Linked DNA regions of Homo sapiens. The protein of the gene in region 2 purifies or fractionates together with the protein of the main gene of each other region. This does not show direct contact. Each region holds a gene or a part of one and is shown on either strand. Other genes may lie near its edges. The genes, in order: HSF2 and PIF1.

Region 1 (3,814 bases), on a different chromosome or scaffold from region 2:
TGGAGACTGCTAGCTTCCTACTCTATCTCTACTCTCCTCTACTTTCTTCCTAACAGAAACACAATTTTGATGAAAAACACATTGTGAAATTTAGAAGAGACCCAGACTCATAAATGAAGAATGTAGAGCAAAACAAATAATGATTTTCCCTTATTAGATTAAATTTACAACCCTTGACAATAACCAGTATTGGCAACTAGGTAATTATCAAAATTAAAATGCTTAAAATGCATACGTCTTTTCCTATCTTAAAAGAACTTTCCCTCTTATACCTTCTTTTTCAATCTACCCATCTGTCTTTTCCTTAACTGCAAAATTTAACAAGCAGGTATTTTAAACCCCCCTTCTCCAATTCAGGACCATCCACTTACTCTCACTGAAAACTGCTTTTGGTTCCCTCACTCGACTGAAACCAGATTTCTAAAATGTCAAATATCAAATTCAATGCCCTCTTTTCAGTCCTGATCTTCCTACACCTCTCTGTGGCATTTCATTTGGTACAACTAACAATCTCCTCCTTAAATGTTCGACTCTCTGGGCTTTGATGCTAAACACTGTTGAGTCTCTTATCTCTTATATTTCCTTTCAATTTTCTTCCACCTATCAAATAAGAGGTAGCTGTATTTTCCAGGTTTTTATCCTTAATCGTGGCACCATTCATATTCTTTCCTTAGAATTCATCCACAGTAGGGTATCTTATTATTGACTTTATTTTATAATAAACACATCTACAGCTCTGTCCCTGATCATCTCAAATTACACACTTCAATTTAAAATGTTAACATTTTTTACACTATGTTCTTTAACTCAGTATGTTCTAAACCCATTTCCTGTTTCCCCGGAAGTCAATCTTTTCTTGTGTCTTCCATTCTACCAAGTCCCTTCCTCACTAAGTCACCCGACAACATTTGATGTCAAAAAAAAAAAAAAAATGAAGTTAAAAACTCTCATTCTAACAGCTAGTAAGGGGGAAACATTAAAACATTCCCTTTAAAAATTAAGAACAAAGCCAGAATGCCATGATAATTGCTTCTACTCACTCTTAGTTACTGCCAAAAGAAAAACGGAAGGCATAAAGGTCTGAAAGGAAGAAAATAAATGTCAATCACAGATACTATGGGTGTACTCAGAAAACTGAAATCAGTAAAATGATTTGCTCACTGATTTATTATCAATATACAAAAATTACTTGTATTTCTAATTACCAGCAACAGCTAGAAATCTATTTTTAAGTCAAGAACACCATTTACAACATATATAAGATATCCAGGAAGAAAATGAACAAAGATCCACAAGGCCTAATAGCAAACATAAATCAACAAAATGAATTTAGAAATATGCCTTGTCATGAGAATACACAACACAGAGATATCGATTTTCCCTAATCTGATTTATATAGTTTTGATCCAATTGCAGCAAAAATCCAAAAGGCTTTTTTTTTTTTTATGGAACTTGATTTTAAAACATATGTGGAAGAGCTAAAGACCAAAAATACTTAAGGCACTCCTGAAGGATAGATTACCCTACCAAAAGACTTTTTCTGAAGCTACAGTAATTAAGACAGCAGAAGACAGGCACAGGATAAATTGTCCAATGGAATGGCATAAAGACTCCAGAAACAAAACCACTGAATGTTTGTGTCCCCCAAAATTCTATGTTGAAACCCTTGCCCCTGATATGATGGTATTTGGAGTTAGAGCCTTTGGGAGGTAATTAGGTTCAGAGGAGGTAATGAAGATAGGACCCCCCAGGTTAGGTTGGTGTCCTTATAAGATAAGAGAGACCAGAACACACTCTCTCTCTCTCTCTCTCTCTCTCTGCCATTGGGAAGACACAGAGAGAAGGCAGCTGTCTGCAAAGCAGAGAAAGCTCTAACACAGGAACTGAAATGGCCACTGCCTTCATCTTGGACTTCTCCACCTCCAGAACTGTAAAAAATAAACGCCTGTTGTTGAAGCCACCTGGTCTATGATATCTTGCTACGGCAGCCCAACTGATTAAGACAATATCTACACGTACTTGTGACGTAAGATAGAAGTGGCAATATAGATCATTGGAAAAGGAAGAACTACTCAGTAAAGGTGCTAGACAACTAAAATGTAAAAAGCCACAAACTGGAAGATATGGCCAAAACATAAACTCGAATATGTAGAATATATAGGAATTCTCACAAATAATAAAAAAAAAAACAGAAAAATGGCAAAACAAACATTTCACAGAACAGGAAACACAAATGGCCAACGAACGTGAAAAGGTTTTAGAACTCATTAATAATCAAGAAAATATAAATCAAAACCTCATTGAGACAATGCTTTACATCAATTAGATTGGTAAAAAGTAAGAACGATAACTAATACACAGTTTTGAAGAGGCAGATTAACAGAAAATCTCATACATGGCTAATAGCGGAATAAGCTGGTGTGATCTCTTTGGAAGATAATTCACACTATCTTGAGGTTAGACATTTCATATCCTATATCCCAGCAAGTCACATGAGTGTACAGACCTTAGAGAAACTCTTGCTTATATACACCAGGAGAGATATACAAGAATATTCCTAACAGCATGTGACACAGTTGATCTCTTTCCTGAGCCATTTTCTTTCATTAACTTCTGTGGGTTCACTCCCTTGATTTTCCTTCTTTTTCACTGTTCCGTCTCAGCCTCCTTTGCTGGCTTTTGTCTTCATACTCTCTAAATGTTGGAATAATACATCTTTTGGTTCCTTCTATCTTCACAGAAGATGATTTCATTAAGTCTCCTGGCTTTACCAGTTACAAGGTCTAAACTCCACCCTGAATGCCAAAGTCTTATACTCAACCACCTATTCAACATTTCCACTTGGACATTTTGGAGTGTGGAAGTCAGTCAAGCTGTTCAAAAATACTCCTGTTTTTTTTTCTAGCACTGCACTTCCTCATCCCTTTTGAAATTAGGTGTGGCCATATGACTAGGCATGGTCAAATTTAAGAAAAATTAAACAATTTTCAAGTTGTTTCAAATACTACTAGAGATCCATTTTTAATCTCAAAGTTAATATGCCAAAAAGAATCTCTAACATCTTTCCTCAGCAAATGGATTTATCCTGTAGTTCAAACCAAATTTATGAATCATTTTTAATTGTCGTTCCTCCAACCATAGCCAATTTATCAATTTATCAGCAAATCCTGCAGCTTTGCCTTCAAAGATTTCAAAGCTACATCTCAATACCTTGACTGCTGCTACCTTAGTCTCAGCCATCAATATTTTCAATACCATACAGGAAAACTGTGATAGTCTTCTAACTGGTCCCCTCATTTCCAATCTTCTTACTATAGATCTAGGGCCCTATACCATCTGCTCCTGCCTACCTCCCTACTCTCACTCTCCTAATTCCCTAAAGATATTCTAATCACATGGGCCTTCCTGCTTCCTTGAACAGCCACATTCAAGGCCTTACCTTTTGTCATTCCCCTTTGGCCCATCTTTTCTAATCATTTAGATCTCTCCTCAAACATCGTCTCCTTGGAGAGGCTTTCCTCATCACCTTACCTAAAATATTCACAAATCCTAGTCTGTTTATGGGCCAGTTATCAATTTATTGCTCCAAATTCATTCTTCATTGTCTGCTCTACAAGCATAGAGCTTGGTTCCTTAAATAAATATCTTTCTTTTTCTAGGTGCCATGATGTTAAGTTCTGTCAGCAGGGGATAAAAGAGAGATATTACAAGAAAAAGGAGCTCTTGTTCCTGACTCATGTATCCTTGGCAAGCTTCTGCAGTGGAGGCAGCTTCTCCAGTGCCTAGCTCTTGATATTAATGGTGGTCAGCAACA
Region 2 (4,317 bases):
GCCTGTTCCTCAGAAAGCTGTGGCTTGGTGGAGGGCAAGCTCAGCCTCTTCACAGGCAGGGGCCACCTTGGGGCTTCCTGGGGGGAACAGAGCTATCTCAGAGCATCCTCCCACCCGCTAGGCATTGCCCCCACCCTTCTTGGCCCATGTGCAATGCTGGGCCTGGTAACCCTTTGTCCTCTACTGCCTTCATTCCATGGAGCTCTTGGGTTTGCCTGGAGAGCTTGCCAGCAACTATTGGGGTCCCGATCTCTCCTTGTGCCCTGAAGACCCCCATTGTCCAGTCCTGGGCAGACCACACCAGTGTGGTCTACACCCTCCCTTAGCTCCTTCCCCTGGGTTCCCTAACCCTTCTCATCCTGTCACTAAAGTTTCCTTCCTGTCACCTAAGTTTCTCTTCCTATCACAAACCTGTTTCTCACCTCAAAATACCCAAGCAAAACCCTGTCTAGCCAGGGCCCCTTCTTATCCTGTCTCTGTCCTCTCGCCAGCTTAGTGTCAAACCCTGGTGGGCTATGATTCACCTGCCCCAGCCCATGAAAATTGTCAAACCCACCAGACTTTTTTCCCCTCATCTGCTTCAACTGTTGGCTGCCCAGGACACGAATGACCACTTCATTCTCTCCATAAGCTCCTCTACTCTGGGCCTATTACCCTCTCCCAGCATTCTTTCTGTAGTCCTTTGCAAGCCTCCTTCTCTTCTTTCTCTCTCGCTCTCTCTTTTTTTTTTTTGAGGAAGAGTCTCGCTCTGTCACCCAGGCTGGAGTGCAGTGGCGCGATCTAGGCTCACTGCAACCTCTGCCTCCCGGGTTCAAGCTATTCTCCTGCCTCAGCCTCCCAAGTAGCTGGGATTACAGGCGCCCGCCACCGCGCCTGGCTAATTTTTGTATTTTTAGTAGATACGAGGTTTCACCATGTTGGCCAGGCTGGCCTCAGAACTCCTAACCTCAGGTGATCCACTTTAGCCTCCCAAAGTGCTGGGATTACAGGCGTGAGCCACCATGCCCGGCCTCTGCTTTCTCTTTTAATGTAGCCAGGTCCCATTTCCTGTTTTGATTTACTCCATCTCAGGGATTACACTATAACAACCACAGGCACAATTCCCACACCCCTGTCATACTGAGATGTCAGATGGGTATCAAATACCCACACCGGCTTCCCCTCAAACTTGGGTCTCTAGGTCTCTGCCATCTTAAAGAATGGCACATCTACTCCTAAAGGTGTCCCTTCTTTCCCGTCCTCACTGTGCTAGGCTCGGCCCCAGCCTGGGGCTCCACAGGCCGCTTCACCAGCGTAGTGTCCGGAACCCGGGTGGCCGCCCTGAGCCGCCGCTCCTCGGGCTGCACAGGGCTGATGGTGACGAAGTCGCGGGGCCGCGGGCCCAGCAGCTGCGCTCGGGCGGAGGCCGGCCCGGGACCCGGGGCCGCAGCCAGCTTGAGGCGCAATGTGCGCAGGAAGCGGCGCAGGCGGTCTGGGGGGCAGTCCGAGAGCAGCAGCTGCACTGCGCCGGCCCCGGGGGTGTCGTGGGCGGGGAGCCGCAGGGTGCTGCGCCCGGCCTCGGCGAAACGCGTGAAGAGGCGCGCGGCGCGCAGAGGAAAGCAGCGCGGCCGCCCCGCGGGCCCTGGCGCTTGCAGCCGCAGCATCAACTCGCGGCGCTCGTTGCGACCCAGGCTCAGCTCCGCGGTGCGCAGGGCCTGGCGCCTTCGCGGCTGCCCGCCCGGGCTCAGCTCCTCCACAGCCACGCGGCACCGCAGCTCCGAGTCCTCATATTCCCCTGCCGCCGCCTCTATGCCCGAGAGCATCGTCACCGCCTCTGCTGGTCTGCGAAGACACCGGAGCACAGGGGTCATGAGGATTCATGAGACGTAATGGGTGCTATAGGGGACGTAATGGGTGCTATAAAGGACGTGACAGGGAGCAGGGTCAAGGCTACACAAGATCACGAGGACTGTCACTGGTAACACAAAGAGGTCACAAAGACGGAGAAAGGGCTTTGGGCTAACCGAAAATCCACCCTTAGAATATGCCCTGGGCCGGGCGCAGTGGCTCGCGCTTTAATCCCAGCACTTTGGGAGGCTAAAGTGGGCGGATCACCTGAAGTTAGGAGTTCTGAGACCAGCCTGGCCAACATGGTGAAACCTCGTCTCTACTAAAAATACAAAAATTAGCCGGGCGTGGTGGCGGGCGCTTGTAATTCCAGCACTTTGGGAGGCTGAAGAAGGAAGATCGCTTGAGCCCAGGAACTCGAGACCATCCTGGGCAACATAGCGACACCCTCTAATTAAAAAAAAAATACATACATATAAATACATACATATGCATACATTATATATATGTGTGTGTGTGTGTGTATATATATGTATATATATATATACACACACGCACCCTGCTACACAATTTCCATTTCTATATATCCAATTTCTATATATATATACACACAATATATATACAATTTCTATATATATACACACACACACACACACACATATACACACACACCGTGCTACACAACAATTTCCAGAGCGGCGGATGGGCACCGAGGATTAGGGAGCCTCAGGTGTCCTGCAAGGACCTCACTAGAACAGGGGTCCCTGCGCAGAAAGAATCCTCCTTCCCCGAGACCCAGGGCGAGCACATGAATCCTCAGAGTACTCTCCCCAGGAAGCAGGAGAATCGCCCGTGGGGAGATGCAAAGAGGGCTGCCGTGTAATAAGCGACTTCTGCCTTGTAGGTACATTCACTGGCTTATATGCAGCGGGCAGGTCTCACTCTTCCCCGTGTACAGACGTGGAAACAGGCTAAGAGAGGGAAACTCACTTGCCCTTCATAAGCCACAGCGGCTAGTAGTCAAAGTCAGTGTGATTCCCATGCCCTCGCGCTTCCCACCACCAAGGTGGGGACGAGGTGGAAAATATTCGGCTAGGGAAATCGCGGGGGACCCTGGGACCCTAGAAGCCGTGCTCCCTCAGGCTGACCCATTTGTTTGCACCCTCCCGCCGGAAACCCCTAGATAAATCAGGCTCTTTGCTCCCCACCTCTGGGTTCGGGCAGACACTCACTTGTGCCGACACTCAGATGAACAAGCAGATCGTAGCCGGCCTGTGGCTAAGCTCCGAAACTAGAAATTTTTCAAATGCTAGAGGCAGAAAATCACCCAATCACCGACTGGATCTTTAAATTCTCCAGCCACTCAGAGGTAGGGGCGTAACAATGGGCGTGTCTTTCTTTGCGTCTCTACTCCAGGAGCTTGGGCTGTACCAATTGCCTGCTAGAGGAAGGAGGTTTATGGTGGTGGCTGAGCATACCAAATCCAGTGGACGGCTGGGCGTGGTGGGAGGAGGCCGCCGCTGCGGCAGCCACCCGGCGGCGCGTGGTGTCGGGTCTGAAAACCCTACGCGACTCCGAAGATTTATTTTCAGAACCATCCTTCCAGCACACTCCCTCTCCCCTCTAGCCCGCACACAGAGGCTGGGCTTAGCCTTGGGGAAGATCTGCCTTTGGACTCTCACACCCCTGTTTACACTCACAGTACCATTGTCCAGTTCTGGGCAGACCACCCCAAGGCCTGCCCAATCCCTCCCCCGCCCCCAACTCTACATCCTTCTCTGCCTTTGTAAGGGACTTTACGCTTTGGCTCTCTCACCCACCTGAGGCCCATGAGTGAGAAACTCTGAGACCTGTGCCACGTGCCAGAGGGTACAGCGGAAGCGAGTAGAGTCTCTGTCTTCAGGGAAATTGTATCCCTCTTCTTGCACAGGATGCTGAAAGAATTTACTTTTAATCATCTTTATTATCTCATTGAAGCTTGGAATTACATAGCTGGAAAGGATCTTACAGGTGAGTCTGGCTACCTCATTTTACAGATAATGATAACTACCATGGATTAAATTGCCCTTTCCTTTCCTTTTTCCTTCTTAGGGCTCACTCTGTCGCCCAGGCTGTAGTGGAGTGCAGTGGCACAATCTCTGCTCACTGCAACCTCTGCCGTGGCGCGATCGTGGCTCACTGCAACCTCCGCCTCCTGGGCTCTGGTGATCCTCCCGCCTCAGCCCCCCAGGTAGCTGGAACTACAGATGCACACCCAGCTAATTTATATATATATATATATATATATATATATATATATATATATACACACACACACACATATATACACACACATATATATACACACACATATATATATACACACACATATATATATATACACACACATATATATATATAATTTTTTTTTCGTATAGACGGGATGTCACCATGTTTCCCAGGCTTGTCTCGAACTCCGGAGGTCAAACGATCCACCCACCGTGGCCTCCC

What was found.
Region 1: the proteins of PIF1 (region 2) and HSF2 purify together in Homo sapiens (affinity purification with a luminescence readout; one large-scale study listed by IntAct). This does not show direct contact.

The regions. Positions count from the first base shown.
Region 1 is NC_000006.12:122,405,967-122,409,780, reverse strand, and holds part of HSF2 (heat shock factor protein 2), read right to left. Parts: intron 1-3,814. UniProt on the Homo sapiens protein: DNA-binding protein that specifically binds heat shock promoter elements (HSE) and activates transcription. In higher eukaryotes, HSF is unable to bind to the HSE unless the cells are heat shocked.
Region 2 is NC_000015.10:64,822,534-64,826,850, forward strand, and holds the start of PIF1 (ATP-dependent DNA helicase PIF1), read right to left. Parts: upstream 3,115-4,317; 5' UTR 3,036-3,114; intron 2,272-3,035; exon of another isoform or gene 2,095-2,271; intron 1,822-2,094; 5' UTR 1,803-1,821; coding exon 1,245-1,802; intron 78-1,244; coding exon 1-77. UniProt on the Homo sapiens protein: DNA-dependent ATPase and 5'-3' DNA helicase required for the maintenance of both mitochondrial and nuclear genome stability. Efficiently unwinds G-quadruplex (G4) DNA structures and forked RNA-DNA hybrids.